Regions from separate parts of the Homo sapiens genome. Here region 1 is reported to be linked to region 2. Evidence: microRNA targets listed by miRTarBase, many of them from high-throughput screens and not tested one by one. Region 2 holds a microRNA gene; the other region holds the end of a gene's coding sequence.
What was found. Region 2 holds the annotated microRNA hsa-miR-6080 (UCUAGUGCGGGCGUUCCCG, at 5,188-5,206, shown strand). A microRNA usually pairs through its seed, bases 2 to 8, with sites in the 3' UTR of a target mRNA and lowers its output. Matches are read on the target gene's strand: a 7mer-m8 pairs with bases 2 to 8, a 7mer-A1 pairs with bases 2 to 7 and ends in A, and an 8mer does both.

Region 1: the mRNA of ADAM22 is a reported target of hsa-miR-6080. Seed matches in the 3' UTR shown: 7mer-m8 at 937-943.

The regions. Positions count from the first base shown.
Region 1 is chr7:88,193,372-88,203,351 of GRCh38, reverse strand. ADAM22 (ADAM metallopeptidase domain 22) reads right to left here. Exons shown (of 32, transcript NM_001324418.2): 32 at 463-6,881. The coding sequence ends at 6,861. Among named protein-coding and RNA genes, the nearest start is that of SRI-AS1, 18 kb to the left of the region's middle.
Region 2 is chr17:64,775,609-64,786,591 of GRCh38, forward strand. It overlaps MIR6080 (microRNA 6080), which reads left to right and starts at 5,151; the gene lies at 5,151-5,216. It also overlaps the pseudogene ARHGAP27P1-BPTFP1-KPNA2P3, the pseudogene ARHGAP27P1 and the pseudogene PLEKHM1P1. RefSeq lists enhancers at 2,190-2,859, 2,860-3,528, 9,371-10,130, 10,502-10,983, 10,568-10,983 and silencers at 3,015-3,234, 3,395-3,454, 4,708-4,757, 5,526-5,625.

The sequences.
Region 1 (9,980 bases), not on the chromosome of region 2:
CCTATGAACAGATGGCAAGGACCCCGCAAATGCCAGAATAATGACGGGTAGGTAAAATGCCTGCCTGGAAGATGAAAAAGCCAGGGTGGAACAGTTTTTAGGCAATGAACTCATGAGCCCATCCTAGGCTCAGTGCTTTAGAATGCAGCACAGGTGACCTTATTAACTAAGCACCACTGCCTGGTCTACAGGACAGGATATAGGAAATTGATCCTCATTAGGGTGAGAGAGGAAGTGCTTACAAGGAGAGGCAAATAGATAAATAAGTAAACTACCTCTGCCATCCAGATGAGGAAACTGCAACAAATCGAGCACTCAGGCTTTGCTAAAGGGTTGTATTTCTCATCATGTTAGTGACCCCTTCTGGGACACCAGTGAACAGGAAAGAAACAATCCCTTGACTGTACCCCTAACAAAGCTTCTGAAAGAGAAACTAGCTGGGAGAAAAAGAAGAGTCGTGCATCAAAATAACATAAATCTTTTATTGAAAGTCACTTTACTAATGTTACAATGGGAGTAACATAGAAAACCATGGTATCTTATTAGCTTCCGAAGTGAATACTAATAAAACTGTGCCAGAAATTTGAACCTTAAGTTACAGTGACCTTTAAAAACATCAAGATTTTGTTTACCTACAATGTAAGAACAATTTTATAACTTGAACAGCCATAAAACAAATCACACTTGCTCAGGAAAGCAGTTGCCATATACATTTCCATTGGTGTTTGCCATAACCCCAGTAATTATTAAAATAGCTTAACGAACCTGAAGTGCAGAGTAGCAGAGAAATGTTAAAATAATGCGAATCTAAGTATATACACATGATTACCTGATTACCAAAAGTGAAACCATGCTGCTATTAACACCTCCTCATGGGGTGGCTTCCACTATCTATAGATGCACATCACCTGTCAAAGGTGATAACCGTGGAAAACACTAGTGCCGACCTACTGCTGGCTAACATGTAAGCTACTATGTTTAGGTAAAACACCCCGTTTCTGAAAGAAGTTGTCTTTTGGGGGTGCTAGTTTGGAGGGGCAAGTCTTCCAGCAAGTTAAAAAAGGAGTACATGCTTATCTATCCTGAATAAGCCTTTTTTTAAAGCAGTTTTGCAGTTAGTGTAAAAAAAAAAGTTTTCCATACAAAACAAAGGTGTTGAGTCATTTTTGCCCTTTAAAAAGACTGGTTGTAGAATCAGAGTTTGATTTTGTGCTGGATTAGAAAAGAAAAGTGGGGTTTCTAGTCAGGCAGTGATACACATATATAATTTAGCAGGAACTTTTGTATTATTACTAAGTATTCATATCAGCATTTTCTGTATTGTGTTACTTGTTCAACTTAGCACCGCTATATTTAAAGATTGGGGCTATTTGCATTATTTTAGAGCTTAGCCATCCAACACAAATCACAGCCTGAAAATTCATAAAATAAGAGGCTAAGCCCTAAGGTGAATGCAGATCAGAATATTATATATATATAACATTTTTTACAAGAAAGGAAAATACCTTTTCTTCATAAACTCTTTGAAACTTTATTGATGATTCTGTATGTGCATTATCTTAAGAATTCGTCTCATTGTATGCCTTTTTGTAAAACAAAACCAAAAACACACATATTGCCTGGTTTTGATTTCAAGGATACGTAGGAACATGGAATGATGATTACTTGATGAAAAGCCTGCCAGCCTTGAAGCTTCCCCATATGATACAGGTTTTATGAACAGTGCAACAGGGATGCATCAGGCAGGAGTGACTGGCCTATTATGGACTGGACCACAAAGTATTCAGAGTCAACACTCAGTCAATCTGCCAAGCACAGAAGTCTGTCTTAGGCATCCAGCACCTCTCTTCCCACCACACCCCTTGTGACAATGTGTGCTCTCCTGCATATCTGGCCTCAGGAATCTTCCTGTGAATATCCATTCTGTGTCTATGCCAGGACTAAATGCCCCATGGTCTCCCAAAGTTCTCTGCTTCTTATCTCCTCCCCATCCTGAAATTCAGGCTTTTAGGACTCATCTCCCAGTGACTTCCTAAGTTGCATAAGCTGCTAATGTGCCAGTGGGTGAAGATAAAGATGCCTGCCACCTCTACTCCCTAGAGCATCCTAGGGATATAAAGGACAAAAGTACTAATTAGGTTTTTGGTTTTGAATGTTTTGTTTTTCTGCTTACAAACAACCAGAAGTTGCTCCATTTGCGGGACTAACAAAGCAATGAATAAAATGTCAGTAGAAACACTCCTGTTTTCTAAAGTCCTGCTGCATCTTTGTTCTGCATCCGCAGATGTGGGAGAAAAGCTCCTCTTGGAATTAAAAGCACCTCCCCCACAGAGCATATGCTATGAGCATGTGCCAACAATTCCCAGCAGGTGTACTTTTAACAGCGGGGCTACTCACACACAGCTGGGATGGGCTGCTGCCGCTCAGCCAATTTTCACAAGAGCAGACTGGGCCCCTCATTATATTATACTATCAATGGGAAACTGTTTATCAAAGTCCTTAGTTCTTCCATGCCAGGAGAAAAGTTGCTGCATCCAAAACCAGAGTAGTCTTATCCATTCAAAAACATCTCAGGAGGAAAACAAAACATTTGAGCCCCAAATTAAGCCCTATTCCACGGAAGTGTTTACTTCTTATACATCTTAAACTGTAGAGCAAGAATGAGAAATTTATCTTGACTCCATACATTTAACGGAGTGGAAAGGTATTTAGGTGGCAGTTTTAGAAAAAAACATAAAAGTGAAAGGAAAAATATAATTAGGTGCATAAAAAGTAGATATGATGCTGCAAATGGCAGTCAAGTGTTTCATGGAAAATTCATGCCAACTTACCAACTGGTAGGGTGATATTTACAACACGCTGCCCATGTGGGCATCCAGTGGCAGCAGCCAGATGTGTCCTATCAGACTGTGCAGGCAGCTGTCTTGTCCCTCCTCGCTCCTGCCAGTTCCTAACTTGGCTCTCCCCTTCCATATACTCTACAAGCTACTCAATATCCTGCCAATAAATTCTCTTTCCTTTAAGTAAAATAAAGTAAAATAATCTTTTCTTTAGATAAGAATTTATTATTGTGTTAAATAATAACATAAGAAAATATTTAAAGTACTATATATATGGTTAGAACTATACGACAATAGGAAATGAATGGATAAAATGAATAAATGAACAAACCTTATTTTAAAACACTGAAAAAAGTGAATAAAAATACCATATATCTTCTGGTCCGAAGGTAACTGTAAAACATAAAGAACAAAATCCCAAAAAAGGTAACAGGTAAAGTAGCCACAAGAGATCTGGGACAATAGACAGGATTAAATTATGTAGATATGCAAGGGAATCAATAGAAAAGAAATGTAAGCCTGTTATGAAATTCAAACATAAATAGTCCTTCTCTGAAAGTGCAGAGAATATCCAATTTTGTCTTTCTGACAACTTCTTTAGAAATCCTATTAATGTTACTTTCAGAAATTCTATGCCAGACTGACCTTATATACAAACACAATTTTAAAATTCTTTTTAAAGTAACAGGGAAAAGAGAGAGAAACTATGGTATCACTTAATAAAGCACCAATATCAAAGTGAAAAATAAGTTGGCATTTTAAACCCACATTTGCTTTATTCATCAACATTTTTTAAAGGAACAACTCTAATGATAGGTTATTCCTAATCGAAGCTCCGGGTGTCTTGTTAAAAATACAGCAACCACAGCAAATTGAAAGCCCTCACCATGTTGCACTGTCCGATGTATTCCTTTCCACAGATTGCATGTGCCCTGGGGATCATTTCCAGCCTGCAGCGTTCAGAGGACCATGCCACTTCCCATCTAAATAAAGAGTGGCTGGAGGACAGTTCATGTGGCCAGTCCACTCCATAAGGACTCTCTTCTATCCCATGCCTTCCTGTTCACACTTACTGGAGAGACTTAAATGTTCCTTTAAATCAGGGTTTACTGCACTGCAATGACTATGGATAAATGGAACTTCTCAGGCAGCAGGGTGCCAATCTGTAGTCTTATCAATGCATAAAACTGGAAGAGGGGAAAAAGGCATACAATGGAACATAAAGGCCAAATAACTGCTCTCTTCTGCTTAGCAATGATTTTGTAGTGGATTGGGAAATATAAATATTAGTTGCATGATATAAACTGTGATACGGCCTCAAAGTTTCTCTCCAAAATAGATATTTAAAGAGAAATAATGCTGTGCTTGTATATTTAATGCTACCTACCTCGGTGGATGAAAAGTCATAAATATTTAGATGTAATGCCTCTAGAACCCCAACCATGAGTATACATATAGATACTTCTTGAAACTCTCCCTTGAGACTATAAATTTGTCAATGAATCCCACAAATGGCTCTAAGAATGTTTAAACATGGGAGATAGAGTAGATTCCAAGAATAGAACATTAAAGTTACTGTATACCTCAAATCATAATCTCTACAAATAAAACAAAAATTTTTAGTCAGTTCCACAGGAAGGTTATTACCAAGGCGGGTAATTACAAACTATATACCTCTAGAGAAACCATGTCTCCCAAAAGGCACATGATCATGATTTTCATTTGAAATAATAATTTCATGTAAAAATAGGTGAGGGAAGAAAGACACACAGACGAATGATAGAGATCTGTTAACTTCTCAGCTAGCCATTTGTGGATTCTTTCAAATTAGAGTTTGTGTACCTGTAACTAGGAAGCATATTTACATGAGGCACCTTATATTCAAATCTATAAACTCTTTTATAGTCAAAATAAACCTTATAGCATTAGCCTTTTGTACACTCAGTACCAGGAAACATTCAGTGCACGTTACAGTGATCTTGGTAAAAAGTCACTTTATTTGCTACATCTTTCAATCTGTCTGCCCTTCTGTTCTTGGCTTGAGCTATGTGGCAACACTGCCCAACACTCACCCAAACCTTGGCCTGATGGATCGCTTTATGGTCATATCAACAATCACATCCCTTCCTGTCATGAAAAATGCTGTTTTACATTATGTAATTTTGGATCATTAAATTGCTTTCCAAACATTTCAAAGACTTTCAAAAGAGAGGTCCATTACAGAAGACATAAACACACAGTATAAAATGCTGCCTTCTAACTCGGCCCTTCAGTTTGGGCATGATATGTAATCAAATTGATTACATATGAAGATGATATGGATTTTGTCCATGGATACTATGGGAGAGGATCAAATTTAAGAGAGTATATCTGAAAACCTGTCTGCAGATTCCATTCCTCTTAAGAACACACAGCAAATGAGGAAATCAGAAGTATACTTCAGAGCAGACCATGTGATTGAGCCCATCAATCTCCAGCCTCACTAGGGTAGCTAGCTTTCTTTTGGAATGACAGATCTGCCATTATAACAGCTATCAAACTTTGGTTTTAAAGAAGGGTCTTTTAAAATAGAATCTTATTTTCCTATGGATTAAAAATATATGTTTCAAAGCATCAGATTCTTTCCCCCACCAGCTGTTAGTGTAACTTCGCAGATGCTGCATCTCTGTGGTTTAGATCTAACTTAACCCTTTATGAATGGTTGAAGCTGCTCAACTCAAACAGTAGAATCTTCCGTCATCTTGCTTCAGAGTCAGTGCAGAATGACTTGTTGGGATTCACATCCCAGTGATGACAAATATTCTTAATCAACAGTGTCAAAGTTGTTTTTGTTAAAACAAGTCATTCATTTCACAGATAAGGGTGACTACAAAGTTTTGCCAAGGAACAAAACTTCAGGCCACAAAGGGTTAGAGTATTGGCAAACCAGAAGCTACCAGCTCACTGGCAGTACGTTGTCTCATGTGTCTTTGGTGCACTTGCTTAATCTCAGCAGCACACACTGCTGAGGGGCTGGCTCACTGGGATGAGATGGGATGGACGGATGGGATAGATGATTTCCAGGGAGCAGCCCATCGGCAGCAGAGTGGGCTCCTGCATCAGCAAACTGTGGAGGCCAGAAGTTTTGCTGGGCATTTTGTTCTCTCACTCAACTACTCACTCAATAAAACTGCCTCCAGACTGTGCACAGGTTAAAGGGATATCACATGTTTTGGACAAATACGAATTATGGAGAGACACATTTACAGCATTGACCACTATATTTACATTACCTGCTTATAGTCTTTGAAGATCACTGGATGGATGACGATGATGTGATTGTGACGGAATTTTTAGGCATTTGGCAAAATACACTTGTGTGTAACAGCTGCATTTTTTTAAAATTTTAAAAATGTTACATATATACAATTGTCCTTGTATGCTAATATAAATATGAAAAGTAAAAAACAAAACAAAAATAAAAATACATGTTTAAAGTTAGCCTATGGGATATTGGCCTTTCAAAGCTTTAAAGTCCTGCAGAAAAATCCTATATGCCTTAGCCCTGCATGCTCATTTCTATTATGGGATGTTGTTTCCTTAAATATGGAAAACAATAAACAGAAGCTTCATGCATATAGCATTACTGTTTACAGTGAGGATGTGCCTCAGAACGTCAAGTTCTGAATCCACTATTGTACCTTAGGAAACTTGCTACATTTGGGTCATGTGAGTTAACTTTATGAATATTTCTACATATTATCTGTCATGCGGATTATCCATTAACATACCAGTACCTTTATTGTTCCATGTTATAGTGTAATATTTCAGTAGTTCTTTTCATGGTTAGTTAAATCCTAAGCCAATGACAAAAAGAAAATGGTAACCAGATGTGAAACTCCGCTTCCTCTCCTCTGTAGCATCTCAGAGGGTCTTCGTATTGTCTGAAGAGCAGATAGATTTGCAGTGATTCCATGAGCCTGGGTTTCTATAAAAGTTGAAGTAAACAGTTTTCGATGTATCACATGTAAACAGTTGATCTTAAATGGATGTCTCCCATAGCTGCACAACAGAAAAGAGCAAAATTGCACATTGTGAAAGCAGGAAGCAGATGTATTCTGAATAGGAGATGAAAAAGATTCAGTGATTCCATCCATATATATGTGATTGTGGATGCACACTCTTGCAAAGTCTAAAAAGTGGATAGAATAAACACTCCAACTTTTAGCTCTCTGTTTCCTCAAAACCTGTGTCTCAACCTTTTTAACAGCAGCCATCTTTTGATACAAAAACCATCACATCCTCATTTAATGTTACTAAACATTTTGAATAGAGTCAATATTGTGTCTCAAATGAAATAAAAGAATTTAAAATATTATTTTTTAAGCTACACATGCCCTTCCTTTCCCCAGGATTCTGAGACAGCCAGCTAGAGCAGTGGTTCTCAACCTCAGCTGCACATTACATTAATCTGGGGAGGTTTCTACAATTCCACTTCCCAGGCACCACACCAGACCAACTAAATCAAAATCTCTCTGGGTGGGACTCAGGCGTAAGAATATTTTAAAAGCTTTGCAGATGATTCCCTTGTGCAGCCACGACAGAAAACCACTGACATCAGGGAAGTGTGATTCCATCAATTCCACCATCACCCACTTGAAAATCACTGCCATACACTCCACTTCTATCACTACCTCCTTAAAAAATAGTTCTCTCAGCCGGGCGTGGTGGCTCACGCCTGTAATCCCAGCACTTTGGGAGGCCGAGATGGGCAGATCACGAGGTCAGGAGATCGAGACCATCCTGCATAACACGGTGAAACCCCGTCTTTACTAAAAATACAAAAAAAATTAGCCGGGCGTGGTGGCGGGCACCTGTAGTCCCAGCTACTCGGGAGGCTGAGGCAGGAGAATGGCGTGAACCCGGGAGGCGGAGCTTGCAGTGAGCCGAGATCGCGACATTGCACTATAGCCTGGGCGACTGAGCGAGACTCCATCTCAAATAAAATAAAATAAAATAAAATAAATAAAAGGTTCTCTCTCACAAGCTGAGGTATCACAGTGGAAGGATACATTCAAGGCAGGATGTCCCTTCATTCATTCTGTCCCTCTTACCCTCTCCTTGCTTTTGCCATGAGCTCTTTATATTGGCCCTGTTCCGGTCAAATTTCTACAATGTTCAGCAATCACCTTAATGGACTAATAACAAGTGTGACATGATCAGATATGAATGCAACTCAGTTCACCAGAAAAGGAAGACCAATTTAAAAAGAAGATCAAGCTGATGAAATATGTTTCCAGGCAATAGAATTTAGATATAATTATTATAAACATAAACAAATAAAGCCTATGAACACAGTGACTTAGGTTGTATCCAATTCCATCCAAATTCCATTTTTACTGGACATTTGGTGCATGTCGCTGTATATATAATGAGTTTCTGGGAAAGAAAAAGGAGAAAAAGCCAAGTGAGTAAGTAGATGTTTCTATATAGGTTCCCTTAATATGTTCTCCCAAATCTTCATGGAAATCTTGTTCTGAATGCCCATGTCTGCCTACTCCACAGGACTGTGGTAAAGCCACCATGCTATCTACCTTAGGTCATTTTATATGCCCTTTTTATTGAAAAGACACCAACCCCTTGTAAACCACAGGAATATCTGAACTGTGAGGATCTTCGTGAATGGGTGACACTGGTGGTGGAGAGGAGTTAAATGGGGCTTGTGGTGGGTCTGGAGCAAAGACGATCTGAACTGATGCTCAGATAATGGTCTGGAGGGCTAAAGGGATTAGACTCTGGCCTCAGAGAGCTGAAGTTTCCTCAATATTGTTTTATAAAGATTAAAAATAATATGTGACAGGAGAAAGAAGGGAGGGACAAATGAACAACATTGGGAAAAACCTGAATGTCATGATTACTCCAGTGAGAAAAAATGAGCAATTGCCAAACATCACTTTCAGCACTAGGCATGCCTTGGCCCACGTCTATGTGGTGGTAACAGAGGGGCTGCTGATAGGAAGATCTGCTTGTTCCACTCTCCACAGCCCACAGAGACAGCCCAGAGACAGGGGCTGTGTATTTGGTAGGATTCTGCCACATGCTTATGTGGCTGTTCCACAGTGCATAGAACAAATCAGACTTTTCAGGTAACAATCCCAGCAGCCAGAGCCTTTGTGGTCACCTGCTCAGCCCAGGGCCAGTCATTTTTTCTAGGGAGCTATCATTTTTACAGGCTCTTGTGTGGTAACATCTCCAATAACCCAAACTCTGACATGACAACAGCTGAGGGAATGTCCCTAACTTGATGGAACAAAACAGGGATGCAGACAATTTAGCAGAAAGTGGGTTGCTACACTTAGACAATTATTTGAGGAGGGCAGGAATGACCTCAGTCTCAGATTTCATTATCACACATGACATCATGAACAACTAGGTATCTATCAAGAAGTCTTTTGTTAATTCAGAAAGCTGAGTGCTGGGAATCTGAATTGTCTTGTTATCTTTTACCATTTCTCATATTAACATATAATGGTAATTTTTTATGATTAACAAAACACTGCTGGTAGTTTTTAAAGACTTTTGGATTATAGTGATCTACACAGCTTTTAATTATTTGTGCCTTCTTACTGACTCTGAGTTAAAATTAAAATTTGAATGATCCACGTTTACCTTGAATCACATAATTTAGGTTTGGGATCAAAGAGATTCCGAAACATCTCTGAAGACCAAAGAGTCTAACCAGCAGCTAAAGCTGCCGAGGCTTATAAGCTTTATTTTATTTTTTTGCAACATTATTTCTAAGAAGATGAACATTACAGTGTAAATGACCACAACAGAGCCTGGACATCAATAAAGGTAATTATTCTTTGGTTACATCTTTCACTTAAGTCTCTGAGGACCAGTCTGCCTCTCTAAGCTCCACTGTATCTCGAATTTCACATACTGATATGTTTCAGGAATGTTGTGAGACAGTGGCAGTGTGATTAAAATGTAAAAGGTGATATAGCAAAATACACTGTTTTGTTTACTGTAGGTTTTAATAAATTAGCTACAATAATTAAATATATAGCAATTAATTACACAAAATGTACCTAGACTGTATCAATGCAGATTAAACTATTTGCAAATATAAATCTGAAGCCAAAAGTCTCAAGAATCTCC
Region 2 (10,983 bases):
CAGGCAGGCCCCACCTTTCTCCACCCTGCTCCTCCCCAAGTCCCCCCCACCCCCCAACTCAGTAAGCAGCACCACTGTCTGCCCACAAGTGCCAGCTGGGAATCTGAACTCAACCCGATTTCCCTCCCACCTCCCTCGGCCCCCAGACCCTGCCCATCCATCTCCCAAACCTCTGTTACCACCACATGCCCACGAGACCACCAAGAGCTTCGGCCATTCTTGAGGCCCTGGCCACAGGGATTTTTTTCTCAATCCCATTCCTGTCTCTGCTAAAAGCCTCACAGCAGCTGCAGGATAACGTGCACATTCCTGGCAAGGGCTCATGAGGCCCTGCCCCGGTGGGCACCCACTCTCAACCCCATGCTCCACTCTGAGCCCCGGCCCCATGTCTTCTGTTGCTGGCCTCCTATCCAAGAGGGTGAGTCCCCCAGGACCGTGGCTGTGCCTGAGTCCTCTCTAGATCCAAAGGCTCACCAGGGCTCTGCAGCTATTTGGCTAGTTCATGCCTAATGAACGAGTGAATGGGCCTGGAGGATTATGGTGGGGAAATGCCGCCTGGGACAACTAAGGGCAGGGGTGGGGTTCCCTTGTGGGGGCAGGACCAACTCCCTACCCTGGACTTTGTTGGGGGTGGAGCACCAGGGAGAGCCACAGCTGCCTCTTGAATAAAGCTCCGTGGCAGGGAACGTGGTATTATTGCACTCATTGCACAGGGGAGGAAACTGAACCAGAGACGCAAAGTGACTTGTGGAGGTCACATAGTGAATTAGGGCCACAAGTGGGGCCAGGGAGCAGCCTGTCTCTGGCCAATGTCCTAGTTCCCCCCTGGGTAAGTCCCCTGCCCTCATCACCTGTGCCCCTCCCCCCATATGCCACTGCAACTGGGAACCTGCTGGGAGCTGGAGGAAGGATGGGCAGAGGGGCCACCTGGCAGGCGCCCTGGCAGCCGGGGTGATCTGTCTTCTCAGGAGATGTCAGGACCTGGGCAGTCTCCTTCCTCTTTGGTCCTGGGGCCTGGGGTGGTGGCCCTTGGGCAGACCTACAGAGGCCTGGCTCATAGGTAAGGGGCTGCCGCACCTCCGCCCTATTCAACATACACTCTCTGTGCACTCTGTCTGAGCCAGACCCTGGGCCAGATGCGAGGTTCAAAGAGCAAGGCCATTCCCCCACCTCCAGGGGCTCCGCTCAGACGGGCAGGCACCGTCCCACCGTCACTAGGACAGAGAATGTGGAGAGGCCGGGAAGTGCGCCACCGGGAGCCTGCGCAGGAAACGGAGGGGCGCTGCGGGGGAAGAGCGCTGGCATCCAGCCACCCATCCCAGAGAAGCTGCCTGGCTGGCTGGCAGGGGCGCGAAACAGGAACCAGCCGCGGTCTCCAGCCCCGCCCGCCGGGTGCCGTTTTCCACCCTGGCCACAAGGCGGCGGGCTGCCGCTGCAGGAGCCAGAGTGAAGGCGGCGCAGACCCAGGGAAGCCAAACGAGGATGACCCAGTCTGGGTGGACCCCCTGCTGCTGCCAAGCGCTTCGAAGCCTTAATTCATTTAAGGCTCACAACCCTAATCCTTAGGTATTGTGCTTACACCAGAGGACGCTGGGCCTGGGGGGGGAGGGGGTGGTCCTCGCTTGTAAGTTAAGTGGCTGTCAGCAGCTGGCAGCTGCCCCAGCAAAATCCAGTTCCCCTTTCCCTAGTCTCAAAACCTGAGCTCTGCATTGTAACGAGACAGGCGGAGGGAACACCCAGCAGCGGGCCTACGGAGGCGTGTCTCCTTCGTCTGGGCATCCCGGACTCAGTCCTGGCACATGGTGGGCATCAGTGTTCATGGTAATGACATCAGGCACAGCGAAATAAATCAGAGGCTCCCAAGGTTCAGAGGTCATCTGTCCATCCCCTCCCTTTGTGCTAAAGAACAAACCGAGACCCTGAGAGAGGAAGAGAGCTGCCTCTAGATCATCACACGGCCGGTGGCAGATGGCAGAACGGTTCTAAGCATCCTTTTCTCCCCCTCGGGCTGCCCCTCCCTGAAAAGTTCCTAAAGTTCAAAATGTCAGAGTCCCCCAGAGTGTTCTGAGGATGCAAGAGTGTTTGTAAAACGTGCTCTATTTTCGATTTCCCAGATTAACACAACTGGATTCTGAAGAGGGGAAAAAACAACCTCACTTAACACGTCTTTCTGAAACAAACCCATCAGGAGTTCTTTTAAAAAAAAAAAAAAAAAAAAAAGGAACTGAAATGCTGGAAGCACCCTCAAAGGGAAGCAGACGCCTGACTTTCACATCCACCCTCTCATCTGACTCCAGGCTCCTTGAGCTGGCGGCAGGCCCGCAATCCCCCGTTCCGTGCCCAGATGCACTTCGGAATATAGAACAGCTGGGACTTGGAAAGATAATATGTGGCACCCACCTGCTGTAGGTTACATAACCTCCCAGCAGGGCTTGGGGCAGCAGCCGGCCATCGAGCTTATTTGCATTTCTGCAGCAAAACATGAATATTCACACAAGTGCGATAAATAAAGACCATCAACAGCCTCATATCAGTTCAAGCGCAATTTTGCCACCAATTTGATTACGAAAAATCTTTCGGGCTTCCAGGGAGCTTTGGAGCCTGGAAATTGCAGATGAGGGATGGGGGCCTGCACTGTTTCGCGGCTGGGGAGAGGGAGCTCATCCGAAGTCTTCCGACAGAGGTGGGCGTCATGCCCGACGCTGAGCGGAGTGGGTCTCCTCGAGCCCAGGCTCCCTGCGGGCGCTGTCCTCAGCGAGCCTCCCCGCCTCCGCGCCCGGGGTCGTACCTGCTTCACGATCTCCTACCGCGGCGGGCCGCGTACCTCCTGGATGGCCTCTTAGACGTTCTCTGAGTCGCTGCGCGACAGGGGCAGCAGGCACACCCAGGAGCCCGCTACGCTGCAGGCCTTGAAGCTGCCGCTGCTTCCGAGGTTGCCGGCGGGAGGCGAGACGACGGCGCGCGTCAGGTCGTCCAGGGACTGCGCGGGCCGCACGGGCGCCGTGGGCCGCAGGTACAGGCAGGCGGGCAGGCCGGGCGCCAGGCTGCTGCGCTGGCTCGCGGCGCCGCGCTGCGCAGGGCCGCACAGGGAGCTGGCCCCGCCTCGGGGCTCCGCTGGGGGGCCGTTGGGGGCCGCTGCCACAGCCGCGCTCACGAACCGGTAGTCGTAGGCGAGCGGCTCAGGGGCTGCGGGTCCCGATGGGGGGACCTGGCGGCGCGTCAGCGGCAGGGTTGCCCAGCGCAGGCAGCTCGCGCACGTACTGCGCGGGCAGGTAGAAGGGGCGGCCGCCGGGCTTGCGCCGCACGTGCCACCAATGCTCAGTGCTCTGTGCTGCGCCGCAGCGGCCGGTAGCGCTCATTGGGCGGGATGGCCACGCGGCGCCCGTCCTTGCCGGTGTACTCGAAGGGGTGCTCCACCAGTACGTACACGTCCCCCTCCACATCCGCCGCCATTGCGGCCGCGGCATTTTCCTGCAGGCAACAAGGAAGAGGGCCGCGGAAGTCAAGACCACTGAGCCCGGAATAGCCCAGCACTCGAGGAGAGACTTGGGTTCGAGTCCCGATGCTGCACTTGCCGTTCGCCTTCGGGCCTCAGTTTTCCCATTTCTAAAATGAGGACTTGAATAAAATCACATGCAAGGCTTCCATTCTTACACTCAGTGCTGGAATTAGGACAACCTCTTCATTCCGTGGGGTTGATTCTAAGATTTCAGCCTCGCTTCAGTCCTGCGGTGGGGAGATTGTGGGTAGTCTTGGTCCAAATCGACTGCGAGGGAAACTTTGGCTTTAAAACGAGGGGTGATTACCTGCTCTAAGGTCGACACCACGCTTGCTTGATAGTTGACCGTGCCTTAGTTTTCCCGTCAGTCAAGTGGGAAGAGCAGCCCATTTCCTGCCGCTCCCCGGGCCCTGTCCCGCCTGGACGCCTCCCTCCAGGAGCCTGCGCCCCGGCCCCGGGGTCAGGGTTGGGATGCGGGCTCTGCAGGCGCCCCGGCGAACAGCTCTACCTGGAGGCTGTCCCTGCCCCGCTTAGTCCAAGGGCCTTGGTGTGGGGGCCTCCGCTGTCAAGGCGGGGGAACCGGTTCTCTCGGTTTCTCTCCCCTTCCCCAGCGGCTTCAACGCAGACGTGAGCCCGAGCCGGGCCCGCCCCCGCCCCCTGCTCTCCGGCTCTCACGCCGCCCCCCGAGAGAGGCTGCCCACCTGCCCTGTGACCCCTACAGTGTCCCCAAGAGAGTGGCCCCTGGAGAATGCACTCTGAGACAGTGACTGTCCGTGCGGAGTCCCAAAGCAGGGGCCCTCAAAGCTCTCCGGAGTGGTCACAAGCCCCGCTCCCGCCCCGGCTGGGTGTGTCAGGGATGGGGGAGAGCTTAACTAAATCTGCCGGCGCCCCTCCACCAAAGCCATGAGTCGGTGGTCTTCTCCGGAAGTGCATGGCCCCTCCAAGCTCCCACACTGACCACATCTCCTCCTGCCTCCTAAGGTGACCCAGGCCAAGGGCCAGGAGACCGCGGCTTGCCGAGGCTGAGGGACCGAAGGAGCAGGGTCCAATCCGGGACTCCCGTAGGGCTCCTTCGCCACTTTGTCAAGCGTTCCTCGACTAGGAAAGGGTATACACTTGAGTCACTAAGCACACTGGGCCCCGGAGGCGGGGTCATCGAGCTGCCCAGAGCCAACAAACCCCAAGGTGGACACTGCCCCGGCGCCCCTTCCCCCCGGACCCCGCAGCGCACTCACGTCTGCTGGGCGGGCCTCAGGGAGCCCAAGGGCCGGGTGGGCGGGGCCGGCAGGTTAGGCCCGGACCATCGCCCTGGGCGGGGCTTCCGAGGTGGTGCCGGAGAGGTTTCGCGGAATCGGAGCTGGCAACGGCAGCGAATAGGGACAGCGACGCTCAGGAGTGCTGTCACCCATACCCAAAGAAGCTGCGTCTGGGCGGGGCGAGGAGGAACCTGAATGCCTCTGCTGGGGACCTTGGGGGGCATTGGGACGAGGACCGGAGCAGAAAGCCGGGGTCCGGAGCCAGGAAGGCTGCGTCTGAAGGGGCGCTGGCTGGTCGCTAGCGGAGCCCAAGGAGGGTGGGCCTCCCCTGTCCCGCCTTCCCCCTTCCCTTCTCCCCCGGGGATTTGCTGTCCCGGAGTCCCTGCGTCCCTCCCGCCTGCGGCTCTGGGAATGCCGGTCTGGGGCTGGTTGTCTAGTGCGGGCGTTCCCGTTCGCGGGGAGGTCATTGGCACCCTGAATCACCCACTGCGAGCCCTTCCAACCGGATTGTAGACCTGCCAGCTCCGGGCCCACCTCCCCCAACAGGGCCTTTCCCGGAGCAACCCGGCCGGGCCTGGAAAAACTCCGAGAGGGATTCCCAGCGCAGGGACGCCCACCGGAGCGCAGTGTCTCGGGCTGGATAAGAAGGGGACCCGGCCACAGCTCCTTCGCCAACCTGCGGGAACACAGAGAAGGGGAGGGATTGGTGGGGGCCGAGAGGATCCCTGGAGCGCGAGAGCGCACCCGTCGCCAGGAGGTCCCCTGCGTCCACTGCCCAGGCGACGCAAGCTACAGCGGCGTCAACGCCTGGGTCGGCGCTAGGGGCCTGGGCCTGCTCCCCACCCGCCTCCAGAGGGAGGGCAGCCCTTCGCCTACCTTCTCCTCCCCGTGGGATGCGGCCCGAGCAGCTCCCGCCCCAGCACGGAGACAAGGGGAGCAGGCGCGCGGAGCTCCCGGGTGCGGACCCGCCACCTGCCGCACCCTTCCCTCCCCAACCCTGCCCCTTTCCCCACCCCCACCCCACCTCCCACCTCAACTCCCGCTCGGCGGCCCACTGCCTGCCCGGGCACCTCGGGGCGTCCGCTCGCCGGCCTCGTCTCCACTTGTCCCGGCAGGCGCGCGTGGGCTCGGCGTCCCGCGCTCCCTCCTCGACCGCGCGGCTCCGGCGCTGCCAGGTTTCCTGTATAGCACTATAACCAGTGAGGCACCGGCGGAGAGCGCCCGGCAGAACTTCCTCCCGGACTGGGGCTGGGCTGCGGTTGCGAGAGACAATCCCCGGCGTCCTGGCTTCCTGTCGCCTCTGGGCCAGGCCCGCGCCTGAAGAGGAAAGATGCCACCCCCTCCCCTGCATTTCCCGGGATCCTGGGCCACTCCCGGGATCCTGGCTGTCTCCAGGGAGGAAGAGGCCGCGGGGCTGAGATGGTGGGACTGGGGATGGCGGGAGTCTCCCGCGCAGCTTCTCCTGGCCAGATTGCCTTCCCACCATCCCCCACTCCCTCTTGACCCTTGCGGGGAAAGAGGTCCACCCTCCAATCCGTCCACAGGGTAAGCTCAGAACAACCTCCTGGGGGCCAGGAGTCCAGCCCCAGGGCCCTCCGCCTTGGGGGTCTTCTGTTTGGGAATTATCTGCCTCTCTGGACAAGCTGCCTCGCCCTGATCTGAGCCTGCGCTCACTCCACACGTCACAAACCACAGCCCTAGCAGACCCCCTGCCCTCAGGGGCCCCCAGAAACAGTTGTGCCTATGGACGTGGCTGTGTGTGCGGAGAGCTGGCTGATTCAGGCCAGTGTTCTGGGACGAAGAGAAGCCCACACCCCAGGCCATGGCCCCTCTTGACTCCACCTCCTGGGGGCCCAGGGTTGGATGGGAAGCTGAATCTGGCCACACTCGTTCTGGAACTCCCTTACCTCTGTATCTTTGCCCCTGCTAGGCGTTGCCCACCCGTGAGTCTACACTTCCTCTGAGAATCTCAGTGTGTCTGAGGCCTGGTGGCACTTTGGGACCCTCCAGGGTGGGCACACAGCAGAACTCAGCATTGGTCTTTGGTGCCCGACATGCTTAGAAAATAGTGACTGGAGGAATCTTCTCTCCCTCCCTACCTTTTAGGTCTCTCCCCACCTGCAGCACAGCCAGGCAGCGGCTGGCAGTGGTGATGGTCTTTGCGTGGGGTCAGGCAGGTATGATGCCCCACTCTGCTGCTTGGCGGCTGGTAGGCCTTGGGAGTTCTGCCTTATCTCTGCAGCTCAGCTTTCTTTCCTATCAATAGTAACACCCACTTCACTGGATTATTGGGAAGATTAAATGAGATCCACTAAGCAGTGCTTACCACATGCCCAGCGTACACCATATATCAGCTATTTTTTTTTTTTTTTTTTTTTTTGAGATGGAGTCTGGCTCTGTCGCCCAGGCTGGAGTGCAGTGGCACAATCTCGGCTCACTGCAACCTCTGTCTCTGGGTTGAAGTGATTCTCCTGCCTCAGCTTCCTGAGTAGGTGTGATTACAGGCACCCACCATCATGCCCAGCTAATTTTTGTATTTCTGCAGAGACGGGGTTTCTCTATATTGGCCAGGCTGGTCTTGAACTCCTGACCTCAAATGATCTGACTGCCTCGGCCTCCCAAAATGCTGGGATTACAGGCGTGAGCCACAGTGCCTGCCTATATCAGCTATTATGACACTTTTATTATGTGATGAGCTCTTGGGGTTTGGACTGGAATCTCCAAACCACCCGTCCTCCTTCAGGCAGAAGAGAAGGGGAAGTCCCAGCTACTCGGGAGGCTGAGGCAAGAGAATTGCTTGAACCTGGGAGGCGGAGGTTGCAGTGAGTCGAGATCACACCACTGCACTCCAGCCTGGGTGACAGAGTGACTCCGTCTCAAAAAAACATGGGTGAGAAGGGGAAACAAGTGCCCTCAGAGGCGCTTGGCTGAGGATGGAGAGGGGCTGAGCCCACTGGCAGGGCAGAACCAGGTCATGTGCCATGGCCCTCCACTGGGCCTCCCTCCCCCAGTTTCTCTTCTCTTCTCTGGCCCTACCATCTATTGTCCTTGGGGGAAGCTGTGGCACCTAGATGGGCAGAGGGTGCCAACTTGTAATCTGAAAGGGGCCTTCAAGGACAGGAAATCGCAGATCTGAATGTTGTCTGTTTCCATCCCATTTTACCGCAATCTGATTTCCCTGAGAATTAGTCTGTTTCCAAGGGCGCCTTCGGGAAGAATCCTCACAGGCCTAAGCCCTCCCCAGGCCAGACTCCTGCCCACTCAGGGATGGGGCAATGAGGGCTCTGACCAGGCCAGGCTTGTGGTCATGGCAGGTGCATAACCCAGCTCCTGGCTTAGGAGGTATTGGCATCTGGGCACAGGTGTGCGCCATGACCGGGAGAAGCTATGCACAGCCTCCACCTGCCTGCCACCGCCACCTCTGTTCTGCACAGGCATCCAGCTCCAAAGCTGGGTGGGTGACTCAGCAGCTGATCACCCCCAGGGAGGGGTGGGGGTGGGCTCATCTCTGACAGTGACAGGTGGATCTCCACCTGAGGCCTCAGACTCCAAGCTGAGCGCAGGTAAGACAGCTAGGACTGAGGGCCCGCTGGGTCCAGGAGAGGTGGGAGAAGGCGACAGAGAGACCAGCAAACCCACATTTCCCTGAAGCCTGGAGGGTCTGAACTTCACTTCAAAAACAATTCCAGGCTCCCACCCCAGCACCAAGGCCCCTTCAAAGGCAGTCCTGCTCCGGGGAAGTTCTTCAGTCTCCAGTGTCCTGGCTGGGCAAGTTCAGTGATGCTTTGGGAATTCATAGCTTTGTGAGGCGGCGGCTGCATCCACAGGGCAGCTCCCCCGCATGCCCTGCACAGCTTAGGGCGAAGGACCAGGTCATTTCTCCACAGTGCAGGGCCCAGCTGCCTGCTGTCTCTAGGGTCCTGCCTATCTGTGCCCTGGCAGGGGTCAGTCAGGCAGAGAGGGTGACCCCGGGCACCCACCAAGGTGGGCCTGGAGCATCTGCAGCAGTGCCCCTGTCTGTAGAGGGGTGAGGAGGGCACGGGGATTGGGGGTGGGCAAGACGGCGACCCTCCCTAAACCGAGGAGGGCTCATAGTGCTGAAAGTGCTGGTTTCCAGTCATTTCTCCTTCTCCTAATGGGGCCAAGGCCCCAGGCTAGAGAAGAGCTAGGGGCTCTGACGCTGAGAAAGGGGTGGGCTCAGCAGGTGAGACGCACTGGGGTGGGGAGTAAAGAGGAGACAGAGAGGAAGTGGGGTCACCAGGACTGGCCCTGCCCTGCTGAGGGGCGGTTTGGCACTGGCAGTGAGGGCCAGGAAAGGCACTGGGTGGGCCCACAGGCCCTGTCCCAGCAGTGGCCTGCCCAACAGCCACCCGCTGCCTCTAGGACAGGCCTGAGAGGCTCCTGTGCATCCGCTGGGGGTGAAAATGTCTGGATTTCATGGGTGACTCGCATACGGTCAAGAATAAAAAATACTTTCTGTTGAAATATGAATGGGAAAAACCCACCTTAAAAAACCAGACCTTTTAATCAGGAATGTGGAATTGAAAATGTTCCCCAAGTCCCCTTTCCACAGTGTTTGGCCAGCCCTAACGGAGGCGCCGGGACGCTGGTGAGCCAGGGCCTGGTGAGTAAACGGCCCTGCCTGCCCCAGACAGGGAGCATCTGGTGGTGGCCACGCCTCCTGCAGCAGAGGGGTGGGGGGAGGGCCAGGGGACATCATGGGGACTTCCTGGGCTTTCTGTAGGAGGCCAGTGCTCTGGTCACATCTGAGGTCTTCCTGACAAGGGGACACAGCTGTGACACGGTGAGTATCCTGGGCTGATAGGAAACCCAGCTGGGATGGCTGAGCCACACTCACCCCCGGCCTTCAGAGTGGGATCAGCAGAGGGGCATCAGGCGAAAACGTTCTGTTGCTGGTACTTGCGTCAGCGAGCACAGCGGGGGCAGCCCTTCTTCACCACAGCCTGGCAGCTCTGGTGGAAGACGGTCTTGCACTTGGCACACCTGGGGAGAGAGCAGCACACCTGCTGGTGCCGGCTGGGCTGGAGGTTGACCTGTGGCCACGCTGGCCAGCACTTTTGACCAGAACCCACGATATGGCTGTGACATACTGTGTAACCCATGCACGCACGCTGTGCCTTTCCATCCCGGAACAGGAGATTCTCGAAACAGTGCTTACCCATACGTCACACAATGCACACTGATATTCTCTGTCCTACTGCATTTTTTATAAATGCTGCTTGAGATTCATTAAAGATTTCTTACCTGTATTTTAAAAAGCATTTACTTATTTATTTATTTATTTTTGAGACAGAGCCTTGCTCTGTTGCCCAGACTGGTGTGAGGCTCACTGCAACCTCTGCCTCCCAGATTCAAGCAATTCTCCTGCCTCAGCCTCCCAAGTAGCTGGGATAACAGGTGCCCACCACCACACCTGGCTTACTTTTGTGTTTTTAGTGGAGACGGGGTTTCACCATGTTGGCCAGGCTGGTCTCAAACTCCTGACCTGAAGTGATTCACTCGCCTCGGCCTCCCAAAGTGCTGGGATTACAGGCGTGAGCCACCGCACCCGGCCAAGACTGTATAATTTTAAAAACTCACTCCCAGGCCCATTCAGGGCTGAATCCCGGCCAGTGGACACCGATAAAAAAAGAACTAATGTTCCCAGTTCAGTTTTCCACTCCCACATGGGTTGCAGGAAGGTCTGGATGAATTTTTCCATTGAGAGGTTGCTGATAATGAGCAATAACTGGGAACAAGAGGGATCATTTCAGCAACCGAGGCAGTAGCAGTGGCAGTGGCAGCTACCACCCACCAGGTGCCCACTTTGTGCCTGGTCTTATGCCAACAGTGCAGGGCGGTAACTCATACAACCCTCCTCAACCCATGCATACACTGAGACCCCAGGAGGCTCCACTCAGAGAGCCGGCAGCCACCTCTTCTTTAGGAAGACAGATGGTTCTGTAGAGGCAGAGGAGTCCTGGGAGAGCTTGTCTTGCCCCCTGAACTGGTCCAGAGCTGGCCATGACTGCCCAGGGCGTGGGCTGCCCTGAACAACTGCACCGCCCCTTGGCACGGCACAAAGCAGATGTTCAATACATTCCTGCCCATAGAGCGAAGCCTGCTGCCCTGCGTGCTTGGGCCAGGCTGTGGGTGTGGCGAAGGGTAGGGCTGGGAGGCAGCTGGCTGGGTGTCCCGCATACCTGACTGTGGTGTCAAACTCAGAGG